3 separate regions of the Homo sapiens genome follow, and regions 1 and 3 are each linked to region 2. The links come from fine-mapping of genetic effects on gene expression. A gene starts in region 2. Each other region holds a variant in brackets. All regions are shown on one strand. Distances are between the middles of the regions.

Region 1 (8,178 bases), 23 kb after region 2:
CTCCTTCCCCACAGCCCCTGGGATGTGAGGGGAGGAGGGGCAGAGCCCAGGAGAAGCTGAAGCCAGCGCACAGCCTTGCCACAGAGGCACAGAAAACCCTGGAAGCTCATGCCAAGTTCTTTCTGGAGGGAGCTGGGGCTCAGGAGCCCCATCTGTGCCTTTTAAACTTTGAACTGCAGGCATGTGTTACCGATTCAAAAATAGCAAAGGCCTAAAAAATAAATGAAGGTAGAAGTTCTGATAGGAGAGGGTGGTGCGGGTCTGCCTGGCAGAATGTGCAGGAGAGCAGCCTGTGGCCCTTGCCCGTGGGCAGGAGCTCAGGTCCAGGGTGAGCACCACCATGTGGGGTTTGCAGGGCGCTCCCGCGAGACGCGGGGATGGAATGCTAGCGTGCACCTAGCTTCACCTGACCACGGCAAAGCTCGGTGTTGGTTAAGAAAGCCGTGTGGCACTGCCTGAGGCACCCGCACCGTTGGGGCAGAGGTCAGGGCCGCTGAGAGAAGGGACCTTCGGTGAGTTATTCACCCTGAGCCACGGGCTTCTATGTGGAGAGGGAGGTGGCGCCCACGAGCAGGGTTTTGTGAGAATCTGGGGAGAGCTACAGTGACCCCAGCCCAGGCTGGGCTGACGCAGCACCTGCTGCCACTGGGGTGGTATCTGTGGGGATGCTCTGGGCTGTTGTGATGTGAGGAGCTGGAGGTCCCTCTCCTTCCCTCCCAGGCCCTGAGGAGGAAGGCGCCTTTCCCAGAGCTCTGTCCCAGTCTCTCTGGTCATTGCTTTTAAAAATAACACTGTGGGGCTGGGCACAGTGGCTTACACCTGTAATCCCAGCACTTTGGGAGGCTGAGGTGGGTGGATCATCTGAGCTCAGGAGTTCGAGACCAGCCTGGGCAACATGGTAGAACCCCATCTCTACCAAAAGTAGAAAAAATTAGCCGGGCGTGGCGGTGGGCACCTGTAGTCCTAAGTACATGGGAGGCTGAGGTGGGAGGATCACTTGAGCCTGGGAGGCAGAGGTTGCAGTGAGCTGAGATCATGCCACTGCACTCCAGCCTGGGTGACAGAGCGAGACCCTTTCAGTAAGTAAATAAATAACACCATGGGCCTATCACAGAGACCCTGAGCTTTCCACTTCAGCATGAACTGCTCCTGGCTGGTGGCTCTTAGCGTTCTTTGGTGGGATTTTCTAGTTAGTACTGAGCTGCTTTTGTGATTTGAGCATTTCTGGATGGGTGTGGAATTGGAAAGTCAGATGTGCAGGGCTTGCGCCTTTTCCTTTTGGATCGCGCGTCTCCTGACATGAGGCTGAGCTCACAGAGCTGGCCTCGAGGCGCGCTGTCCCCAGCTGATGAGACGTTTCTGTCCACAGGTGAAGAAGCATCTGCAGGACCTGTCCGGCAGGATCTCCAGAGCTCGGCACAACGAACTCTGAAGGCATTGGGGAGCCCAGCCCGGCAGGGAAGAGGCCAGCGTGAAGGACCTGGGCTCTTGGCCGTGGCATTTCCGTGGACAGCCCGCCGTCAGGGTGGCTGGGGCTGGCACGGGTGTCGAGGCAGGAAGGATTGTTTCTGGTGACTGCAGCCGCTGCCGTCGCGACACAGGGCTTGGTGGTGGTAGCATTTGGGTCTGAGATCGGCCCAGCTCTGACTGAAGGGGCTTGGCTTCCACTCAGCATCAGCGTGGCAGTCACCACCCCAGTGAGGACCTCGATGTCCAGCTGCTGTCAGGTCTGATAGTCCTCTGCTAAAACAACACGATTTACATAAAAAATCTTACACATCTGCCACCGGAAATACCATGCACAGAGTCCTTAAAAAATAGAGTGCAGTATTTAAACCACCCGCTTGTTGGCTGGTCACTAAGTGTCCTGGTGGCTGGGGCCGGAGCCAGTGCTCTTGAAGGGATCGCGTCATAGCCAGCTTCCCCTCTGGGCCCTGTGGGTCTTTGCAGCCAACCTCCTTTTCCCGTGAGACGGCCCGGCCTGATTTAAAGCCAAGAGCGCTTGAGTTGAGTTTGAGGGGAAGATGTGGAGCGTGTGGTTCTGTGGACAGTCAGAGACTGTGGCCTGGGGGCAGCGTCTTTCAACTCTCACCTCTGCAGCTCAGGGACCTCGGGAGACCTCACCAAACCTGCAGGGCCTCCGTGTCCCTAAGTGTGCTGTGTAAATGCCCCATCTCATGGGGGAGAGACAGCCACGGAGGCCTTCCTCTGACCATAGCTGATGGACTGGCGGTTGCTCAGGTCCGGCTCCGAGAATGTTCCTGTGTCTGAGCCTGGAAGAGGCTCGGGTCTGGCTCCAGGCGTGGTTCCCTTCCCGTGTCTGAGCCTGGAAGAGGCTCGGGTCCGGCTCCGAGCGTGGTTCCCTTCCCGTGTCTGAGCCTGGAAGAGGCTCGGGTCCGGCTCCGAGCGTGGTTCCCTTCCCGTGTCTGAGCCTGGAAGAGGCTCGGGTCCGGCTCCGAGCGTGGTTCCCTTCCCGTGTCTGAGCCTGGAAGAGGCTCGGGTCCGGCTCCGAGCGTGGTTCCCTTCCCGTGTCTGAGCCTGGAAGAGGCTCGGGTCCGGCTCTGGGCGTGGTTCCCTTCCCGTGTCTGAGCCTGGAAGAGGCTCGGGTCCGGCTCTGGGCGTGGTTCCCGTGTCTGAGCCTGGAAGAGGCTCGGGTCCGGGTCCAGCTCCGAGCGTGGTTCCCGTGTTTGAACCTGGAAGAGGCTCCACCAGGCGTATTGTGTTTTGACTGCAGCTGGATCTTGGCTTGACTGTTGAGATCTGCCAAACATCCGCTAAGCTATCATTTCTGAGAAAGGTCAAGGCTAGAGGCAGCATGTCGGGAGTTGGCGCATCAGGGTTGGAAGGGCCCCAGGGTACAGCATGTGGGTGCCTGTTCCTTTGTGGACTTGTGTGTGTGTGGCTGGTGGGGCGGGGGGTGGATTCTGGTTCTTTTTTTTCCCATTATCCTGAGAGCCTTAAGGTACTCAGTGTGTTGGTGAGACTCAGCCCTGTCATCTAGCAGAAGTGTGTTCCTTTTCATTGCTGTATAGTATTCCATTGCATGACTGTCCTGTGCTCTGATTTTAATGCACTTTATTGTGGGTGGATATTTGAGTTGCTTCCTTTCTGGGGTAATAACACTCACTTGGAAATAGCTGTGGTGAACACTCGTGTGGGGGTGGGGGTGGGGGCCAACTCTAGGAGCACCTAATGGATCTTACGAAGCGTGTTGTCCAAGTATAGAGATGATTCCAAAGTGGTTGGACTGTGTTTCTTTCTCCCAGCTGGGTGGAAGGAGAACACTAGTGGATTGCTGAGACTTGGTGCTCGGTATTTTTAATTATGGACAGCCTGGCTGGCGTTTTGTGGTGTCTAATTGCGGAGTAGCGTGTCTTACTGTATAATGGCCTCTTTTGTATGTGGGAGACCATGGTGTTGAGGGGAGGCAGTTACACAAAAAACCCAGATACCGAGTGTTAGTTCCATGGGTGTGGCTGGTCATGGTGCGCACTCACGAAGGATGTAGGTGATGCCCTCCACTCCGCAGAGCCAGTCCCACAGGGGTACCCATTCTGACTCCTACCACCGCAGCTCCCTACCTCCCGCCTGCCATGGGTTCCACGTGCATGGCTCTGGGCAGTCTGTGTCTTTGCGTGCGTCTGTGTATGTCTGCGTGTATCTGCTTACATTCGCTCAGCATCTGAGATTCACCCAGGCTTTTGCGTGGATCAGCGGCAGACTCCTGATTGCCGCGTGGCGGCCTGTTGTGTGGGTGTGTGCCGCGTGTGTATCCAGTCCCTACTCAGGAGTGTACGTTTCCAGTGTGGGTTGCAGTCAGGATCCATTTCTCCCTTAACTTTCAGATTATTTGCTGCATAGGCTTTTTTCTCCTAATTTGGCGCCTTTGTCAGAAATCAACTGACCTACCTGTGTGGGTCTGTTTCTGTTTGTCCTTACGCTCTTGCCATTGCCACACTTTAGACAAGGTCTTGCTCTGTCCCTCAGGCTGGAGTGCAGTAGCGTGATCTCAGCTCACTGCACCCTTGACCTCCCATACTCCAGCAATCCCCTCGCCTCAGTCTCCTGAGTAGTAGCTGCGACCACAGGCGTGTGTCACCACACCCGGCTGATTTTATTTTTTTTATTTTTATTTTTTTTGTAGAGACGGGGTTTTACTATGTTGCCCAGGCAGGTCTTGATCTGGGCTCAAGTGATGCTCCTGTCTCAGCCTCCCAAACTACTGGGATTACAGGTTGTAGGTGTGAGCCATGGTGCCCGGCCGCCACACTGTCTTGGCTACAGTTGGGTTTATAATAAACCCTGAATCGAGGTGATGTGCATTTTCCAACTCTTCTTTTTAAAGATTCTTGTGGCTGTTTATGTCCTTGGTGTTTCCATATATGTTTTACAATCAGTGTCTCAATTTCTACCAAAAAA[AC/C]ATGCCTTCTGGAATTTCAATAGCAATTCCCTTGAACGCATTTTTGAATACCTTTTCTGAATGTCTTGAATACATGTTGGGAAGAATCGGTGTCTTAACAGTCTCCAGTGTCCACGCGTTGACTGCCGTGTGTGACTCCAGTCGGCGTCTCAACAGTCTCCAGTGTCCACGCGTTGACTGCCGTGTGTGACTCCAGTCGGCGTCTCAGCAGTCTCCAGTGTCCACGCGTTGACTGCCGTGTGTGACTCCAGTCGGCGTCTCAGCAGTCTCCAGTGTCCACGCGTTGACTGCCGTGTGTGACTCCAGTCGGCGTCTCAGCAGTCTCCGGTGTCCACGCGTTGACTGCCGTGTGTGACTCCAGTCGGCGTCTCAACAGTCTCCGGTGTCCACGCGTTGACTGCCGTGTGTGACTCCAGTCGGCGTCTCAACAGTCTCCGGTGTCCACGCGTTGACTGCCGTGTGTGACTCCAGTCGGCGTCTCAACAGTCTCCGGTGTCCACGCGTTGACTGCCGTGTGTGACTCCAGTCGGCGTCTCAACAGTCTCCGGTGTCCACGCGTTGACTGCCGTGTGTGACTCCAGTCGGCGTCTCAACAGTCTCCGGTGTCCACGCGTTGACTGCCGTGTGTGACTCCAGTCGGCGTCTCAACAGTCTCCGGTGTCCACGCGTTGACTGCCGTGTGTGACTCCAGTCGGCGTCTCAACAGTCTCCGGTGTCCACGCGTTGACTGCCGTGTGTGACTCCAGTCGGCGTCTCAACAGTCTCCGGTGTCCATGCGTTGACTGCCATGTATGACTCCAGGTATTGAGTTCATCTTCAACTTCTCCCAACAATGAACTGGAGTTTTCTGTGCATGTGTCTGGCATGTTTTCCTTTAGATCTAGTCCTAGGTGTTCGATATGCTATTGAGGACTGTGTATTTTTATTTCATTTGTCACCTGTGCGTGGTGCTTTAATCCTGTGCCCTAAACTCCCGCCTTGGCCATGGCGGTGTTTCTGTGGACTCGTGGGGTTTCCGTGTGCACACGCGTGTCCTCTGTCTGACAGTGGCTTTGCTTCCCCTTGTCAGTCTGTGCCTCGGCTTCTCACTGCACTGGTGAGGTGAGCCGGCGCTCGCTAATCTTATTCCCAGTCTCGGTGAACATGGGCTCAGTCTCTCCCGGCTCAGTGTTGGGTTTGCACTGGTGCACTTACAGGCAGAAGAGCTTCCTCATTTGCTGAGGGCTTTTCCTGAATCCGTGTTGAATGTGGTCAGCTGCCTTTCCTGCACCTAGTGAGATGCTCATGAGGTCACTTCCTTACCGCATTACTGTAGTGAATTACGCTGACTTTCATATGCCAAGATGACCTGGCATTTCCAGGTAAGTCCCTGTGGCCATGGTGCATTGGCCTTTTCTCTGCATGGCCAGATGAGATTTGCTCATACCGGGCTAAGGACCTCCTGTGTAGGAATGCTCTTGAGGGACACTGGGCTTGGATGTTCATTGTCTTGTCATGTGATGTGTCTGTCATGGTTTGATATTGCATTAAGTGGGCCTCCTGAAACAAGTTCTGCCATAGTTTGTATAGGATTGGCATTATTTGTTTCATAGAGATGTGATGGGTGAGGCCATCTATGCCTGCCATTTTCTTTTTGCTTAGGTTTTTCATTAAGAACTTGATTTTTAAAAATAGACATGAGGCCTGGCATGGTGGCTCACGCTTGTAATCCCAGCACTTTGGGAGGCCAACGTGGATGGATCACCTGAGGTCAGGAGTTTGAGACCAACCTAGTCAACATGGTGAAACCCCGTCTCCATTAAAAATATAAAAATTAGCAGGGTGTGGTGGTGCATGCCTGTAATCCCAGCTACTCTGGAGGCTGAGGCAGGAGAATCACTTGAACTCAGGAGGTGGAGGTTGCAGTGAGCTGAGATCACACCACTGCACTCCAGCCTGGGCAACAGAGCGAGGCTCTGTCTCAAAAAAAAAGACATGAGGCTTTTGGATTTTCTGTTTCTTCCTTTGTCATTTTTTTAAAGATAGGTTTGTCGCAGAATTTCATCTAAGTTATCAAAACAATTTACATAAATCATTCACAGTATCCTCTGTGCAGTGATGTCCATTCTCATTCCTGCTCTGGGCCATTTGTGTTTTCTTTTCCCCCTGATCAGACTAGCTAAGAGTTTATCATTTTTACAGATATTTTCCCCAAAGAAACCTACTTTTGGGTCCATTGATTTTTTTTTTCTATTGTTTTCTTTTTCATTGACTTTTGCTCTTTTCTTATGAATTTCCTTTCTTCTACCTATTTTGTGTTCAATTTGCTGTCCTTGTTTTAGGTTCTTTTGATAGAGGCTTAGATCATTGATGAAGAATATGAAAGAATGGGATAATACAGTTAAAAACTTGGTCTACTTATGCCCATTAGAGAAAACATTCTTAAGCACGCATGGAATCTTTTAAAAATGGACGAGGTACTAGGACCCAAAGCAAATGTCAGTAATTCGCAGATGATAATGTATAAATATATGATATGTAGGTAAATAATACAAATCACATTCTTTGGCCAGAGTGCAATTGAGGAGGAAATCAGTAACAAAAAGACAATTAAATCCATTTGATTCTTTTGTTTTCGTTTTGTAGTAACTTGCACTTCCCTGGTGCCAGAGGCATGACACCTTTTTGTCTGCTCTTGGCCATTTGGGTGGCGTCTTTGGGAAGGGCCTACTTAATTCTTTTGCCTATTTAAAAAACTGGGTCTTGGAAATCTTGTCTTTTTTTTTGAGTCAGGATCTTTCTCGCACAGGCTTGGAGTGCAGTGGTGCGATCATAGCTCACTGCAACCTCAAACTCCTGGGCTCAAGCGAGCCTCCCACCTCGGTCTTCTGAGTAGCTGGGACTACAGGCATGCATCACTATGCTCTGCTAATTTAAAGAAAAGGTTTTTTTTATAGAGACTGGGTCTCGCTGTGTTGCCCAGGCTGGTCTCGGAGTCCTGGTCTCAAGTGATTCACCTGCCTCCACCTCGCGGAGTGCCAGGATTACAGGTGGCGGGAGCCGCCACACCCAGCCTGGTCTTAGCGTTATTCCCAGGTCTAGGTGTGAGTCCTTCCTCAGATATGTGTTGTGAATAATTTCCGATCCTCTGGCTTGCTATTTTACTTTCTTAATGGTTATCTTTTGGAAAGCAAAGGTTTCCAGTTTGATGAAATCTAATTTTTATTTTTTATTTTTCCGTTCTAGTGGTCTTTCTATTTTCTCATCAAATTGAGACTTTGGGGAAACTACACAGCAGCAAACCAGGATATATCCTCTTAAAAACAGCTCGAGCCGGCCGGGTGCGGTGGCTCATGCCTGGAATCCCAGCACTTTGGGAGGTGGAGGTGGGCGGATCACGTGAGGTCAGGAGTTTGAGACCAGCCTGGCCAACATGGTGAAACCCCATCTCTACTAAAAATAAAAAATTAGCCAGGCATGGTGGCAGGCACCTGTAATCCCAGCTACTTGGGAGGCTGAGGCAGGAGAATGGCTTGAACCTGGGAGGCAGAGGTTGCAGTGAGCCGAGATCGCGCCATTGCACTCCGGCCTGGGGACAAGAGCAAGACTTCGCCTCAAAAAAAAAAAAAAACCCAGCTTGAGCCAAGTGTGGGTGGCTCCCGCCTGGAATCCCAGCACTTTGGGAGGCTGAGGCGGGCAGATCACTTGAGGCCAGGAGTTTGAGACCAGCCTGGCCAACATCACAAAATCCCATCTCTACTAAAAATACAAAAATTAAC
Region 2 (8,178 bases):
TCTGTATACAGCATGTATAAAGAAAAGCAAGATATATTTGGGGAGATAAAAGTTGTAAAGGCATTAAGATGTGTGTTTGTTGAGAAAAAATAAATTTGTGCATTTAAGAAGTTAAAAAAAAAAAAAAAAAAAAAAAAGAGTGCCCTGGCAGAGGAGGAAGTCCATTCAGATGGCTGGGGGGCCCTCAGAATTTTATTTTTGGTTTACAAAAAGTTTAGGATATGGGGGACGTTGCTCATGGCTGGTCAGGAGCTCGAGAGTGGAAGGGTTTGAGGGAACTGGGGATGGGGGAAGGGGTCTGAGAAGGGGATTTACAGAGCTGTCTGGGGCAAGGGGTGGCCTGGGGGGACTCGAACTTTCCATACAGAGGGAGAAGCAGCATAATGAGCTTCATCCTGGGGTCTACAGTGGCAGACAGTGGGGAAAGCAGTGACAGGGAGTTTGCCAGCAGAGGAGGCAGCTGAGGGTGTCTTACTCAAAGACCCTCCCTGAATGCTGGGAGCTGGGAAGGGGTTGGTTTTGCCCAAGCACATGGGGTCTCACTTGTCTTCAGGCAATGGTGGCTGCCTGAGGATAGCGGAGGCTCATTGCCCTAGGCCAAGTGGGAAAACTGCCTCACCCAGAAGGTCACACCCTCCCCCACAACCCAGTGCCTGATTGATGAGGGGAGGGAGAGGAGACACAAAATGGTCCTGGCCTCAAGGCAGGGACAGCCGTGAGGTGCAGTGCTCCCGAGCTCCCCTTCATCCAACCAGGCTGAAGCAGTCACAGCCTTGCTCAGCTCTCTGCACCGGCTCTCTACCCCCACTCTCCTTTCCTAGGAGCACCCCTCCATAATCACCTCCACAGGAATTCCATCTCAGCTCTGCTTCCAGGAAACCTGACCCAAGACAGAGGTTGTTGCAAGGGCAGAGGCCACAGGCATCTACACCAGCCTCTGTGCGTTCAGTCTGTGAGCGGCCCAACGCTGCCCATGTGCTCCTCCTTAAAGCCTACTCAACCCTGGGGTCTACAGGCAAATTCCTCGCGGGCACCTTCCCTTGTCCTGGCTGCCGCTCTGCTTCCTTTGCAAGCTCCTTCTCGCACCCTTGCGCTGGCTCCCTCCAGAGGGCTCCATCCCCTGCCCACTGTGCCTTCGTGGGTGGTGCCCAGATCTCTGTCTCCTCTGCCCTGGACCCCTCTGCCCCTGACTGGCAGATCTATAGAGTTCAGTGCCCCTGGAGGGCTCCACGTCCATCCCACAGGGACCCGGACTCTCATCTTCCTCCTGAGCGTGCTCTCCCTGGAGACCTGGCATTGGAATTCGCCCTGCCACCTTCTGGTCTCCCCAAGTGGAAACCTGGGCGTCAGTCTGGACGCTTGTCACCAAATTCTGTCCCTTCCACCTTCACATGGCCTCTCCATCTTCACTGCCTCCGTGTCTCTATCTCATCCCGATCACCTTCGCCTCTCCTCTGGCGGAGAGCACCAGCATTCCCACTGGTCTCTGCTTTTCCTCAAACGCATCTCTGTGTAACTCTCCCCTCAGGATCACTCTGTGGCCCCCATTGCTCTGGGTGGAATCTTCCTTCCAGTGGCGTTTCAGTCCCCTGGGTCTGCCTCACTCTTCACCACCGTCTTGTGCTTCTGCACTGAGCTCCAGCCAGACCACCTGCCTGCAGCCACCTGGCGCTACCTGTTCCCGTGTGCTTCCTGCCTTTGCCTGGAGAGAATAACAATCTATAGTCCAAACTCAAGGACAAAAACAAACTGCTTTTTGGCCGTGGTGGCATGAAACCCCAATAAGTCAATGACAATGCTGCATGCTTCTGAAAGCCGGCCAGTCAGGGACAGCCCCACACTACAGAACAGGCCCAGGCAGCAAGAACCTTGTGCCCCTGAAGTCAGGCTGAACACTCTCACTTCTGAAAGCTGGACAATCCTCAATGCCAGGCTTCCCAAGAGACTCAATTTGTTTTGCTCTGAGAGATGGTCCTATAAGCACAGTTCCCCTTTTCTCTCGTAAGCAAGATACTCAGCTTCAGCACTGACCAGCCTCACAATCCGTCCTCACCAAGTGGAGGGCCCTCCCTCCGGGTTCCTCCACGGCCGTATCTGTCTCTGTTCATACACCTTCCCCTCAGCACTTAGAGACACGGGCTGGCATGGCGGGTGCTGGCGGCAGGGGTGAGAAATAAACTTTCAGCCCTAGAGGAGGAGCCCAAGAGGAGAGCATGCCGTCACCTGGAGTCTCTGGTATGTGCCTGGCACCTGTACTGATTGCATTAACCACTGTGATTTTTTAGAAGATGTACTAGTTTGAAATGTATAATACATACGGAGAAGTGTATGAAATATGTACAATTTAAAGATAAGGAAAAATGCATGCCTGTGTGCCCACCACCTAGTGAAGAACTACAACCTGGACACCACTTTGGAAGCCTGTCTGTGTTCACCCGTCGCATTCTCCCTCCTCCCCCAGCCCAGGTATCCTCCATCCTTTAGCCATCCCCTGACTTTCTTTAGTTTCATTGCCTGTGTATGCAGCCACGAATAAAATATTGCTTAGTTATCTGGGAAACCGGGCTGTATAGGAAAAGGGCTCTTAGAACCCCACACCACTGTCAGATGCAGGATCCCAGAAGACTCTGCTCCCAGTCCAGCTTCCAATTCCTGTGGGTTTATAACGGGCCTTTCTAGAGACACTGGGGGCAGGATTCACAGAGCTGGAACATTTGCAGTTAGGACCACATTCCAGATGACCAACAGGGACATGCTTGGGGGGGATAGGCCAATTTGGACTATCCCCTTCTAAGCCCACCAAGACCTACCTGTAGCTCTCAGGAGTGGGGTCAGGGCAAAACATGTATGTGGGGTAAAACAGGTGACCTCTGATTCTAGGCACCAGGAGATGGAGAGAAGAGCAGGAACGAGGGAACACAAGGGGAAGGCAGGCACAGGTGAGAATCTAGGCCAGGCTCACCTGGCCATTCTGTCCTGAGGCTTAAAAACATGCAATGATGGCAATGACAGCATTTGATCTGTCTCTGGAGTCACTTCGCATGAGGTCATTCTCCCTCCACCACCCTCCTGGGGGATTCCTTTACCTCCTCTCCCCCATACATCCCATATTGGGAACTTGTGCTTCCAGCTAAGATGCAGTAACAGACTGAATTTACCCTCTTGCCTGAAACAACTCAACAGCTGGAAAAAAAGAAATGAAACGATGGCTCTGAAAATACTAGAAAAGCAGCACAGGACAGAAGCAGATCACCTTGATTCCAGGGACCTGAAATCTTCTCTGGAACAACACAAGATACAATTTAAATGTAAATTAGGGTAGGCCCAGTGGCCCACGCCTGTAATCCCAGCACTTTGGGGGACCAAGACGGGAGGGTTGCTTGAGCCCAGGAGTTGGAGAACAGCCTGGACAACATAGGGAGACCTAATTTCTACCAAAAAATTTCAAAAATTAGCTGGGCGTGGTGACACGCACCTATAGTTCCAGCTACTTGGGAGGCTGAGGCAGGAGGATCGCTTTAGCCCAGGAGGTCGAGGCTGCAGTGAGCCATGATCATGCCACTGCACTCCAGCCTCGATGACAGAGACCCTATCCCCCCACGCAAAAAAAGGAAATGAATTAACATTAATTCCTCTCAAGATGCCCAGGCTCTATTCACCCCCTTTGTCATTGTCCCTCCAGTTGGAAATTCCTCCCTCCCCCCGCAAAATCCCGCCCACCCTTGGAGGCCTTTTCAGATCATTCTTGCCAGATGAGCTCCCCTTGTCCCTTCTCTGAGCCCAAAGGGGCCCAGCTGCTGTCTGTCTCCCTCCTTCCCCTTGTTTCCCGCGCTACCTCCAGGGCACTTCCCAACTCACTGGCCAAGCCCCCAACGAGCGGTCTATGCTAACTTTGGCTCTGTGAATTTCCTAGAGTGTCATGGGTTGGGGAAAAGCGCGCGAAGTCCTGCCTTGCAGCAGGCGCGAGAGCAGGCGCTTGGGACGCGGGTTGGGGCAGGGGCCCCGGGACGTAGGGGGACGTCTGCGCGGCCCTGCGTCCCCGGGACAACCTGGCCTGGGCTTACCCACGGCCAGGCGCTCCGCGGAGGGCAGAAGCGGGCTGGGCCAGGCTCCTCAGCGCCAGGCCCGGGCCGCAGTGCCAACCCCGCAACGGCACTGGACATGCAAGAGTCGGCGTCAGTGCGCGTGAAGCCGGAGCATTATCAGGCTCAGCCAAACGCGGCCCGGTTCTTGGGCTTTCCGCTCTTTCTGTGGGGCAGAGAGGGAAAGAGGCCTCGAGTCGTGCGGGCTCCAGGCTCCGGGCTCTGGGTGAGGCCTGATCCCTGCTCCCACCCGGCCACCCTCATTCTCCAGTTGTATCCCCTGCCAGAGTCTGCAGCCTCGGGCCGCGGCGTGGTTGCCTGGGAAACGCTTGCGCCTGCGCAGGGCTTCCTAGGCGCTGGAGTCCGCCGGCGGCCTCGCCGCTGCCGGCCGCTCACGGAGGAACTACAATTCCCAGGAGACCGCGCGGTGGGTGGGGGCGGGGTAGTGGGCGGGGCATCGGCAGGCTAGGTTTTCTCCGCGCAGCGCCAGTCGCAGAGGAAGATGGCGCCGCGGAGGGTCAGGTCGTTTCTGCGCGGGCTCCCGGCGCTGCTACTGCTGCTGCTCTTCCTCGGGCCCTGGCCCGCTGCGAGCCACGGCGGCAAGTACTCGCGGGAGAAGAACCAGCCCAAGCCGTCCCCGAAACGCGAGTCCGGAGAGGAGTTCCGCATGGAGAAGTTGAACCAGCTGTGGGAGAAGGCCCAGCGAGTGAGCGCGGCCCGCGGTCGGTGGAGCGGGGCCTGGGGGCGGGGGCCGTGGTTGGGGTCGTTGGAGCGGGGCCCAGGGGTCGGAGGCGGAGGGGGGCGCAGCCGGGGCACCTGTGCCCTACGCGCCCTGTCCTTGGCACAGCCTCCCCCAAGTGTCAGGTGGGGCGCCCCGACCCCTTCTGCAGCAGGAAAGGTACCCGTGCCGGCGACGACGCCGTGTGAAGCAGGTGGCGGCCGGCACCCCGAGGGTCAGTGTCGCCCTCCCCAGCCTGGGCGGCCTGCTGACCCGAGCGTAGGGACAGAACCAGGCTAGATCACAGGTCTCCTGCCTCCCGAGCCTTTGCCTGTTCCCTCAACCTTATCTCCCTATGTGGGGAAACAAGAAAAACAAAATGTTGGGTAGAAAGACGTGTCCAGGGACAGAAGGAATCCCAGTAGCAAGCCCGTGCTTGTTCATTTGAGCGAGAAATGAGGAGGTGAGGAGATGGGATCGGTTTAGAGCACATAAAACGCGACCTTGGGAATGCTGAAAGTCAGTCTTAACAGGGCGCTCACCTGACCTCTCCTTCATTTGAGAGATGAGGGTACGGAGGCCCCGAGGGGAAAGGGCACCCCCAAGGTGGCTCGGCCGGTGGGGCCCCCCGGGACAACAGCTTCCTAATTGGTGCGTGACCCTGGGCCAGCTGCTCTCTTCATTAAGATACGGTTGCTTCATTTGTTAGGTGTTCCTGAAAACACCTGAAATGGGTGTTTTCGAACTATGCCGACCATCTGGGCCTCATTATCTCATCTCAAATGCAGGAGTCAGATTAGATCTCTGTCTCAATAGTCCAGTTTTAAGCATTCCTGAGTCTTTGAGAGGGAAAGTAAGTGATTTGCAGAATAAGAAGGAACTTTTGGAACGAAAAGGGAGAGGAGAAACAGGTGGGGGACAGACAGACGACAGACGGTTATAAGACTGCGTGGGGATGGGGATTGACGCCTGGGCATCAGCTCCACAGGCCCTTCCTGAACTGCTCCTGGGACCAGCAGTCAAGCCCCAGGCGTAATGTTCAGCCTGCGGAGGTGGGAGGTGGGAGAACGCTCTGGGCTGGAGCGGCAGGGCGGCTTCTTGGAGGAAGGGATTCTGGAGGGGCTGGGGACACGGCTGGGTTTGGATGTGTTGATGGCCTCCCAGCAGCAGGGAACAGGTGTGACCAGGAGCAGCCGGGATGCAGTGCTGCCTCCCCGTGCCCACTGCACTGGGCATCTGTTGAGTGGGTGGAGTCCCCCCTCCCCATGAGGAATGGGGAGCCCGAAATAGACTCCCTGACCGATTGGAGGTGGCGCTGAGGAAGTGCACTCGGACCCAGGAACCCCAGCGGCTCCCTTTTGGGTGCTGGCCCAAGTCTTCCACCTGCTCTGCAGGGCCGCCCTGGTGCGCTCCACCTTACCTCCAGCCACCTCCAGCTGGTCCTCTGTCTTTGTCAGCCCAGGCCTCCTGCAGCAATACACCTGCCCTCAGGCTGCCCCTGCACTGGTCCAGCTACCCTCGGGCTGCCCCTGCACTGTCCCCCGGTGCTGGGTGCTCGCCTGACCAGTTTCAGTCTTGGGTTGGGTCATGTCTCCTAAACCTCCCTGAGGTTCACTGGGCACCATGGTAGGGCGAGCTGCTCACCTCCACTTTGGACTGAGCCTTGGACTAGATGATCTTTCTGGTCCCTTTAAGTCCTGAAGTTCTAGTTGTGTGGGCAAGTCTTTTTTGCTGAACAGAACGTGAAGTTCTTCGGGGGTGAGGGTGTTTTGGGGGATTTTGTGTGTCTTCCCCCATTCCAGAGAGCCTGGTACTATGGCAGGCAGGCCTGCAGAGCCCATTCGTCCTGATTTTCCTTCCAGATAACGGAAGCTTGGAGGGTGGCGGTGCTGTGAGGGTGTTCTATCCTGGAGCCAAGTGTGCAGGCGTCAGACCCGTCCGGGTCTTTTTGAGGTTCTCAGTGGCGGTAGTGCATCCCGGGTGGTCTTTGTGCTGTGGCTCTTTCTGCCGAGCGTGCCAGGGCCCAGGGTGGTCAGGAGGCAGGAGGAGCCACAGTCAGTTCAAACGTAGGGGGAGAGAATTGTTCGTGCAAATAGTCACTCCAGTCGGCTTCTTACCCCACCTGACTCGCCGCTCTAGGTAGGTATCAGACGGAGACGGGGTCTTGGATCGCCCCCTGGAAGATAATTGAGGTGAGGGCTGCTTTTTCAGAGAAGCACTTCCTGCCCGGCTCTGCAGCCACTGCTCTCAGCCTCCTGCGACCTGCGCTCAGCAGCCAGGACGGTCTTGTCCTTTCTTTGGTTTGCTTCATGAAAACATCGTGTCCCTGTTTTCTGCATGTAAAGCCACATCCTGGCATATAGGATTGCGTAGTGTGTCAGTAGGCATAGGGTGAAGGGAGCGTTTCAGGAAACCTTTGCCTTTGATGGGCTTGGGCTGTGAGACCTGCGTTGAGGTTGCCGCCAAGAAGATGCTGAGACCCGCTTTCATCAGGCGAGACCCGGCCAGGGGGGTGCTGCTTCATCCTCTCCAGCAACTTGAATCTTGACTTTCTGTGACTCTCCCAGTTCCTCTTTCACAGGCGGGCTCCACTGTGTTGCAAGACTCCTGAGCAGAGGCTGTCCCTGGAGCTTTGGAGGTCAGAGGCCATGCAGAGCCCTTGTGCTCACAGACGACTTCTGAGGACTCTGCCTCTTCAGAGCTCTGTGTGTTGTGTTGATGCTGAGGAGTAAGCTCCAGGGTCTGCATGGTCCAGCTGCGGCGCTCAGGGACACACTCGTGTACCTCTTGGCCTGGGCTGCACGGTGCCATGAGCTCGGAGTCCTTGGCCATAGGTCCTTAGTTTTTTTGGTTTTTTGTTTTTTTGTTTTTTTTGAGACAGAGTCTCACTCTGTCGCCGAGGCTGGGGTGCAGTGGCGTGATCTCGGCTCACTGCAACCTCCGCCTCCCAGGTTCAAGCGATTCTCGTGCCTCAGCCTCCTGAGTAGCTGGGATTACAGGCATGCACCACCATGCCTGGCTAATTTTTATATTTTTAGTAGAGACGGGGTTTCACCATGTTGGCCAGGCTGGTCTCGAACTCCTGGGCTCAAGTGATCCTCCCGCCTCTGCCTCCTAAAGTGTTGGGATTACAGGTGTAGTCCCAGGAGGCACCGCACGCAGACAGTCCTTAGTTCTGACGTGAATGGTGACTGCAATGAGAGTGTGTGAAGCATCTTGTTCTCAGAGGTCTGACGAGTGGAAACTGAGGTCTGCAGAGAGGAGCCCTCAGAGCCCCACCCCAGCTCTCAAGCGTCCCCCCTGGCTTGAGAAGGGCCTCTGAGGATGGGCCAGCCAGTGGCCTCCATGGGCACCTAGGACTCGCCAGGCCAATGCATG
Region 3 (8,178 bases), 25 kb before region 2:
AGCATGGTGGCTCACGCCTGTAATCCCAGCACTTTGGGAGACCAAGGCAGGTGGATGACGAGGTCAGGAGCTCGAGACCAGTCTGGCCAAGATGGTGAAACCCTGTCTCTACTAAAAATACAAAAACTTAGCCATGCATGGTACCATGCGCCTATATTCCCAGCTACTGGGGAGGCTGGGACAGAGAATTGCTTGAACCCGGGAGACGGAGGTTGCAGTGAGCCGAGATCGCACCACTGCACTCCAGCCTGAGCAACAGAGTGAGACTCTATCTCAATAAAATAAAATAACAAAAAAAAAAAAAAAAGCAAACTGTACCCTGACCACTTTGGGCACATGTCGTCAAGACCTCCTGAGGCTGTGTCACAGGCCCTTACTTCACCTTGGCAAAATAAGTGTTTTAAATTTATTGAGACCTGTCTCAGATATCTTTTGGTTTACAACCTGATGGAGGAGTTGGCACTGATAGAAGGGTTTTGGGTTTCCAGCACCTGCCTTCATGCCTTACTTCTCGGTGGGCTCAGGACTCAGAATGGAAAAGAGTCCCAGGAGACCCCAGTAGCTCTTCAACTCTTTTACTCTCGCTGTTTTCTCTCCTTTACAGCAGACACCACTATCTGCAAAGGGTCCTGTTCGCTGCTTCTGCCTGCCAGGAAGCACAGCCTAGAGGGCAGTGTCCATGACTGTCCTGAGTAACCACTGGGTCCCCAGCATCTCAGCTTCACAGCTGTTCCGTAATGACCTTCAGATGGAGGGACGAGGCGGGTGGGTGGGGGGATGGATGGATGGATGCATGGATGGGTGGATGGGTGGATAGGTGAGTGGGTGGGTGGATGGATGAGTGGGTGCATGGGCAGGTATGTGGATAGATGGAAGTATGGGTAGATGGATGGGTGGATGGATGGGTCAATACGTGGATGGGTGGGTGGGTGAATGGGTGGATGGATGGATGAATGGATGAGTAGATGGATGCATGAATGGATGGTTGGATGGATGGTGGATGGATGGGTGAGTAGGTGGATGGACAGATGGGGAATGGATGGATAGATGAACAAATAAGTGATGGATGGGTGGGTGTATGGATGGATGGGTGGGTGGATGGGTGGGTGGGTGGATGGGTGTGTGGGTGGATGGATGGATGTGTAGATGGGTGGATGGATAAGTGGATGGATGGGTGAATGGGTGGATAAGTAGATGAATGGGTGGGTGGAGAAATACATGAGTGTGTGGATGAATAGGTTACAGAGTAAAATGCCACCACCAGAGCAGTGCAACAGCGTGCTTTGCACTCAGCTCTGCCATGGAAAAAGTGGTTCCTTCCCAGGCTCTCACCAGGCTCACATGGGCTCCAGACCCCTGCACCCCCAACCAGACTGGGGACACAGGGACTGTCTGCTCAGATCTGCATCCATGCACCTGGCCAACACCAAGTGAGTCACAGGGAACCAGGTGGCCTGAGAGAAGGACCGATGACAGATGGCCTCACCCATGTCGCCAGGAGGCTTGGGTCCCAGTCCTGTGGCCCCACCAGCCAAGAGCTTGTGGACATTCAGAATCAGGCTTGCTGGTTTAAGCCCGGGCATGCAGCACCAACATTGTCTGCCCATGGGCTCTCTGGGTCGTGCCCTGCCTGACTCAGTCCCTGCATCACCAGTGCCAGGCCAGGCACAGACAGGCTCAGTGGGGTGGGCTAAGTAGTGCTGGGGACCCAAACCAGGCATCAGAGGGATTGAGATGCCCCCAGGCTGACTCCCACTCAAGCGGGTCCCCCCGCCTCCCCCCGAGCCCATCCCCTCTGTCCACCTGCTGCCACTCTGACAGCTACAACCAACCCAGGCTCGGGGCTGCCTGGACTCTGCCTACAACTTCACAGGCTCACTCCCATGCTGTCCTTCACACCTGGAGAAGTGCCAAGGTTACCAGTGCCACAGAACAAACAGCCGCATGCACTCTGCACCCTGCTCAGCCATTGAGACAGCAGATTCTGTAGCTTTGGGCAGTTCCCACATCCTTCCAGTCCTGATCTTTCCCCTGGAAGCCAAGGAGCATTCAGCGCCTTCTCTACGTGCTCTTGGCCCCTGTCCACAACAAAGGCCACAGGTCTCTTGTTGTGGAACTATGAGTGAACCCAGCGTTCTCCCCAGGGACCCCAGCACAAAACAAGCTCTCAACACACATGAGTGAATAAAATTGTCCCAGAAAGCGGGAGACTTTACACAGTGGCTACAATGTCCCTAGTACACTGCCACAGTCCAGAAGGGAGAGAAGGGGCTGTGCACACCAGGAAGCCAGAAGCCCACATGCACCTGCACAGGGTCTGTGCATGGAGCTCCGGCAGGTCCAATCTCTTGGCCTTCAGAATAATGATGTAAATACAGGCACAAACATGGAGCAGGCGCCACTCAATGTGCAAACCCTCCCCCTTCTTCTGGTGAGGCCAGAAGTACCTAGGTAGGAGCAGCCCCTACCTCCGACCACCTCCCTCCCTGCAGTGGGAATAGCAGCCCAATCCCCAGGCTGCAGGGATCCACAGGCTGTGCAAGTGTGGCTGTACCCCAGCATGCCCTGGTGCGAAGCTGTGCCCAGGGAGATGTTATCTGCACCCCAGACTGCCTGTGGTGCTGCAGAGTGGTGCCGAGGACGGAGCAGGGCACACCTGGAGTCTATATCACCTGCCTTCCCTAGGGAGTCTTGGGCCCTCTCCACATTCAAGGCGAGGGGAGCAGGGGATCTCCACGAAGACCCCCTGAGCACCTCCCTTCTCTTTTTGCTGATAAATAACCCAAGGCTTAAGGGGTTTTGGAACCAAGACATGGTCACTGATGTTAGAGGAATGGCTCGCTCTCCCTCCTAGCATCCCTACCAGGTAAGGGGGGGCAATTGGTTGCTCCAAGCACCCTGGTTGCTGTAGGAAGGAGAATGGAGACATCGGGCTGAGCCCACTGGCCTCCTTCAGCGCTCGGGCTCTCCCCTGCAGACAGCCTTCCTCAGCAGCCGCACAGCTCAGGGCTTCTCCTCCCTGGGTGCCAGTAACCCCAGGTAAGCCTCTGGCTGCCCGGCAATTCCAATACCCAGAGGGAGGAGCCAACAGGGCAGGCCACGTTCTCACCAAGCCATCTGCAGAGGGGTCAGGTCCACCCTGAGTCCTCCCTTCTCAGTAACAAGCTGCTACTGTGTTTTCCATTGTCCCACAGCTGATTTGTCAGTCAGTGCAATCACAGCGAGGACAAACACTAATGCCCCTCCTGAGACCTCTCTTCCGGCTGATGGTGTGGACCTTGACTCCACAGCAGGTGTCTGCAGGCCCTCCAGCTGGCCCTCGGTAGCCTGGAGTGGCTCATCCTGGACAGACTCACCGCTATGACGCAGGGGGAACTGCCAGGAGTCCCTGAGCGAGGTGATCTGAGAAATGCCATGGCAGTGTTCTAAGCCAGCAGCCTGGCTTACTCACAACCTCTCTGCTGTGTGACCTTGAGCAAGTGCCTTAACCTCTCTGAGCCTCAGCTTGCCCCTCTGTTAAAGAATGATCATATATGACACCTAACAACGTTATGTGGAGTATCAGCAACAAGGAATCCACTGCAGCCAGTGTTGCAGGTGCAACTGGCTGGGGCTGGTGTCACGGGTGGTAAAAGAATTTACCGAGACAGTCGTGGGTAAAGAAAGTCTGAAGACACCTTGCAAGAGAACAGCAGGCAGCATGGCAGAGAGAAGGCCACCTCCCCAGGGGCAGGGGCCAGGGGGAAGTTTGATAGGGTCACACTGGAGAGGCGACATGCAGACAGGGTCATGCTGGAGAGGCCACATGCAAACAGAGTCACACTGGAGAGGCCACATGTGGATACAGTCATGCTGGAGAGGCGACATGCAGACAGGGTCACTCTGGAGAGGCCACACGCAGACAGGGTCACGCTGGAGAGGCCCCACGCAGACAGGGTCACGCTGGAGAGGCCCCACGCAGACAGGGTCACGCTGGAGAGGCCCCACGCAGACAGGGTCACGCAGGAGAGGCCCCACGCAGACAGGGTCACGCTGGAGAGGCCCCACGCAGACAGGGTCACGCTGGAGAGGCCCCACGCAGACAGGGTCACGCTGGAGAGGCCCCACGCAGACAGGGTCACGCTGGAGAGGCCCCACGCAGACAGCATCACGCTGGAGAGGCCACATGCAGACAGGGTCACTCTGGAGAGGCCACATGCAGACAGGGTCACTCTGGAGAGGCCACATGCAGACAGGGTCATGCTGGAGAGGCTACATGTGGAAACGGTCACACTGGAGAGGCGACATGCAAACAGGGTCACGCTGGAGAGGCCACATGCAGACAGGGTCACGCTGGAGAGGCCCCATGCAGACAGGGTCATGCTGCTGGAGCTAACGTGCAGAGTGAGGTATTTGGTAACATGAGGTTGTGCAAGCGGGCTGCTTGTGGTTAGCCATTTCTTAGAACAAC[G/A]GCTCTCCCCGACCCTAGTTCATGTTCTTGCCAGCTAGGGCCTGTGGTGCCATGGAGCTGTGCAGAGGAGGGAACCCCTTCCTCATTTCTATCAGCTGATCGGGACTCCACAGTTTGGTTTCGCTGCATATGACAATCCCAGCAAAAGAAGCATAAACAAGAAAGAAGCTGATTTCTTTCTGAAGGGAGAATCTGGGGATGACTGATTGAGGGTGAGGTGGCAGCTCCTCGATGTCCTCAGGGACCCAGATCCTGGCTGTCCTGCTCCTCGTCCTCCACGCATAGTGTCTAGCCTCAAAGCCACTCCATGGTCCAAGGTGGCTGCTGGTGCTCCAGCCATCAAGACCACAGGACAGGTGGAAGAAAGCTGGAAAAGTACAGGGCAGAAAAGGGCCCCTCCCAGAAGTCCCAGCTGAGTCAGCTTGTTTTTGAGCCATCTTCCTGGAAGTCTCCTACAGCACTTCTGCCTTTAACCCACTGGCCACGACTTAGCAGCTCGGCTCCACTTAGCCTCAGGGAGGAGGCTGGGAGATGCAGGTTTTCATTCTGGCCAGCTACATGCCCCACGACGCATCAGGGTTCTGCCTCCGCGGAGGAAGGGAAGAGGACCATGTCTGTACAAGGGGAGCTAGACCCACGATAAACATGAGCCACGCTAATGTTGTCAGCATCCCCAGAACAGCCGGCAACACAGCCTCACATCACACCCAACCTCCCGCCAGCCTCCAGCCCTGGGCAGCGTCCTCACTGCACCGCAGCCTAGAGAGGGAGCCAGAGTGCAAAAGGGACAGAAAGGGAGAGAACCGGAGGCCACGCTGACCCGAGCAGCCAGGGACAGAGGACAGACCCGGGAGGCAGATGGGAGTTCAGGGCAAGGAAAGTCTTGGGGGCTGCCTGGGGCGGGGGGAGGGAGATGTGGGGGGCAGAGGTAGGGGTGAGCTGCACCTGGGAGGGAACATGCACCCTCTTCCTAAGGAGACCCTGAGAGGCTCAGGGGAGACGGTAGCATGCAACAGCACCTGCTGCTCCCCTCTGCAGGAGGCCGACTCCACGGAGGACCATGCTCTGGCAGAGGAACCCAAATATGCATTTTTCCCACACCTCAGCCTCTCCTGGCCCCAAGGCAGGTACAGGCTCAGAGCTGGGGAACCGGCTGGAGATTTTCCTCTTTTTGCTGACTCTGCCCTGGCATATTCTGAGATACAGGGGTCAAGACTTCAACATATGAATTTGGGAGTCACAGTTCAACCCAGCATGCTATACAGATCTCAAGGGTGTCACTCAGGGAGTTGACAAAAGCGGACTCCACCAAGATAAGAACCTGACCACCCCCGAGATATGCGCTCATCAGTCCCCACTGCACCCCCTCCAGAGGCGACTTTTCATTGCAGATCAGCGTGACCTGTTCTAGAGCTTCCTACAGGCAGAGTCAGGCCGCACTGGCCCGCCCCAGCTCTCAGAGGCCGGCCATCACTGTGCACCCACACACCACCAGCTGTAACCCAGGCACAGGACCTCAAGGTGGGCTGGCTCAGCTGCCAACAGGAGCGAGTGGTGCTGAGGTCCTCCCAGGAGCCGTGGCCCAGCACCTCCTGGCCGGAACAACCATCCTATTCAAATAAACGAGTAACAAGAATGGGCACGCTCTCCACTTCCAAAAGCAATGCTGGCCGGGCGCAGTGGCTCACGCCTGAAATCCCAATGCCAGAGGCGTGTGAACCAGAGCAACTCCATCTTGAACAGGAGCTGGGTAAAATGAGGCTGAGACCTGCCGGGCTGCATTCCCAGGAGGTTAGGCATTCTAAGTCACAGGATGAGATAGGAGGTCGGCACAAGATACAGGTCATGAAGACCTTGCTCATAAAGGAGGTTGCAGTAAAGAAGCCGGCCAAAGCCCACCAAAACCAAGGCGGCCACGAGAGTGACCTCTGATTGTCCTCACGGCTCATTATATGCCAATTAGAATGCATTAGCTGCTAAAAGACACCCCCACCAGCACCATGACAGCTTACAGATGCCATGGCAATGTCTGGAGGTTACCTTATAAGGTCTCAAAAGGGAGGGGAGGAGACCTCAGATCCTCTTCATCCCTTTACTTTCCTGATAAACTTGCTCTCACTTTACTCCGTGAACTCGCTCCAAAGTCTTTCTCGCATGAGATCAAAGAGACCTCTCTTGGGGTCTGGATCAGAGCCCCCCCTTTTCCAGTAACACCAGCACTTTGTGGGAAAGACAGAGGCGGGAGGATTGAGTGAGGCCAGGAGTTCAAGATCAGCCTGGCCAACATAAGGAGACCTAAGTGTCTAACTTAAAAAAAAAAAAAAGGCCAGGCACAGTGGCTCACGCCCAATACTTTGGGAGACCAAGGTGGGCAGATCACTTGAGCCCAGCAGTTCGAGACCAGCCTGGACAACATCGTGAAACCTTGTCTCTACAAAAAAAAAAATAATAATAATACTAAGAAATTCCCGGGCACGATAGTGTGCACCTGTAGTCCCAGCTATTCAGAAGGCTGAGATGGGAGAATCGCTTGAGCCCAGGAGGTAGAAATTGCAGTGAGCTGAGATTGTGCCACTGCATTCCAGCCTGGGTGACAGAGGGAGACCCTCTCTCAAAAAAATAAAAAAAGAAACCCAGGCAGGCATGGTGGCATGCACCTATAGTCCCCAGCTGCTCCGGAGGCAGAGGCAGCAGAATTGCTCGAGTGCAGGCTGTAGGTCAAGGCTCTAGTGAGTTACGATTGTGCCACCGCACTCCAGCCTGCGTCACAGAGCAAGCTGCAGTCTTAAAAAATAAAAATAAAAAATAAAAGCAGTGCTATTCTCCTACAAATGAAGAAATCTCATCAGACAAATACTGCCACAAACCAGATGAAAATCATGATCTAATATTCCAACAAGAACTTCAGCTCCGAAGGGAGACTACAGCACAGAATAAGAACAGAGGAGAATAAGCACAGAATAAGAACGCAGGGAAGAGGTGGCCAAACGGCAGCGGAGTCTGTGGTAGGAAATGACAGAATTCAGGAAGGAAACTGAAGAAAAAGACAAAACCATTTCAGAAATGAAGAAATGAAGTTACAGGTAATACGAGAGCAGAGACACCACGAAAATCATGTAAAAAAGGAAAAAGTGAGCAAATGGAAAGAAAGAGGAAAGAGATTAAAAAGGATTAGAGAGAAAGTGACTATAAAAGACCAGTAAAGGGCCGGGCGCGGTGGCTCCCGCCTGTAATCCGAGCTCCGAGCTCTTTGGGAGGCAAGACAGTTGGATCACAAGGTCAGGAGTTCAAGACCAGCCTTGCCAAGATGGTGAAACCCCGTCTCTACTAAAAATACAAAAATTAGCCGGGCATGGTGATGTGTGCCTGTAATCCCAGCTACTCGGGAGGCTGAGGCAGGAGTATCACTTGAACCCAGGAGGCAGAGGTTGCAGTGAGCTGAGACTGTGCCATTACACTCCAGCCTGGCAACAGAGCGAGACTCTGTCTCAAAAAAAAAAAAAAAAAAAAAAAAAAAACAGTAAAGGGGCTCCAGCGTACACATACGATAGGCAAAACTAACAGATCAGAACAATTGACTACTTGATTTATGTGAGAGATGATCTCATATAAGCTAGCGTTGCCCAGGCTGGCCTTGAACTTCTGGCCTCCTGAGTAGCTGGGACCACAGGTGTGCACCACAGCACCTGATGAACAAGGATTGAAACTATCATTCAAGACCTCTTTTA

The links. PIP is the estimated chance that this variant, and not a neighbour inherited with it, causes the effect.
Region 1: its variant is fine-mapped to the expression of LRPAP1 in lung (TOPMed, PIP 0.98).
Region 3: its variant is fine-mapped to the expression of LRPAP1 in whole blood (TOPMed, PIP above 0.99).

Annotation. Positions count from the first base shown.
Region 1 is chr4:3,506,228-3,514,405 of GRCh38, reverse strand. LRPAP1 (LDL receptor related protein associated protein 1) reads left to right here. Exons shown (of 8, transcript NM_002337.4): 8 at 1,370-8,178. The coding sequence ends at 1,432. Among named protein-coding and RNA genes, the nearest start is that of LRPAP1, 22 kb to the left of the region's middle. RefSeq lists an enhancer at 4,358-5,557. The variant AC/C (reference allele first, on the strand shown) is at 4,420.
Region 2 is chr4:3,528,819-3,536,996 of GRCh38, reverse strand. It overlaps LRPAP1 (LDL receptor related protein associated protein 1), which reads left to right and starts at 4,575. Exons shown (of 8, transcript NM_002337.4): 1 at 4,575-4,788. The coding sequence starts at 4,585. RefSeq lists silencers at 4,336-4,395, 4,836-5,085 and enhancers at 4,586-4,795, 7,953-8,178.
Region 3 is chr4:3,553,468-3,561,645 of GRCh38, reverse strand. No RefSeq gene overlaps it. Among named protein-coding and RNA genes, the nearest start is that of LINC00955, 19 kb to the left of the region's middle. The variant G/A (reference allele first, on the strand shown) is at 4,451.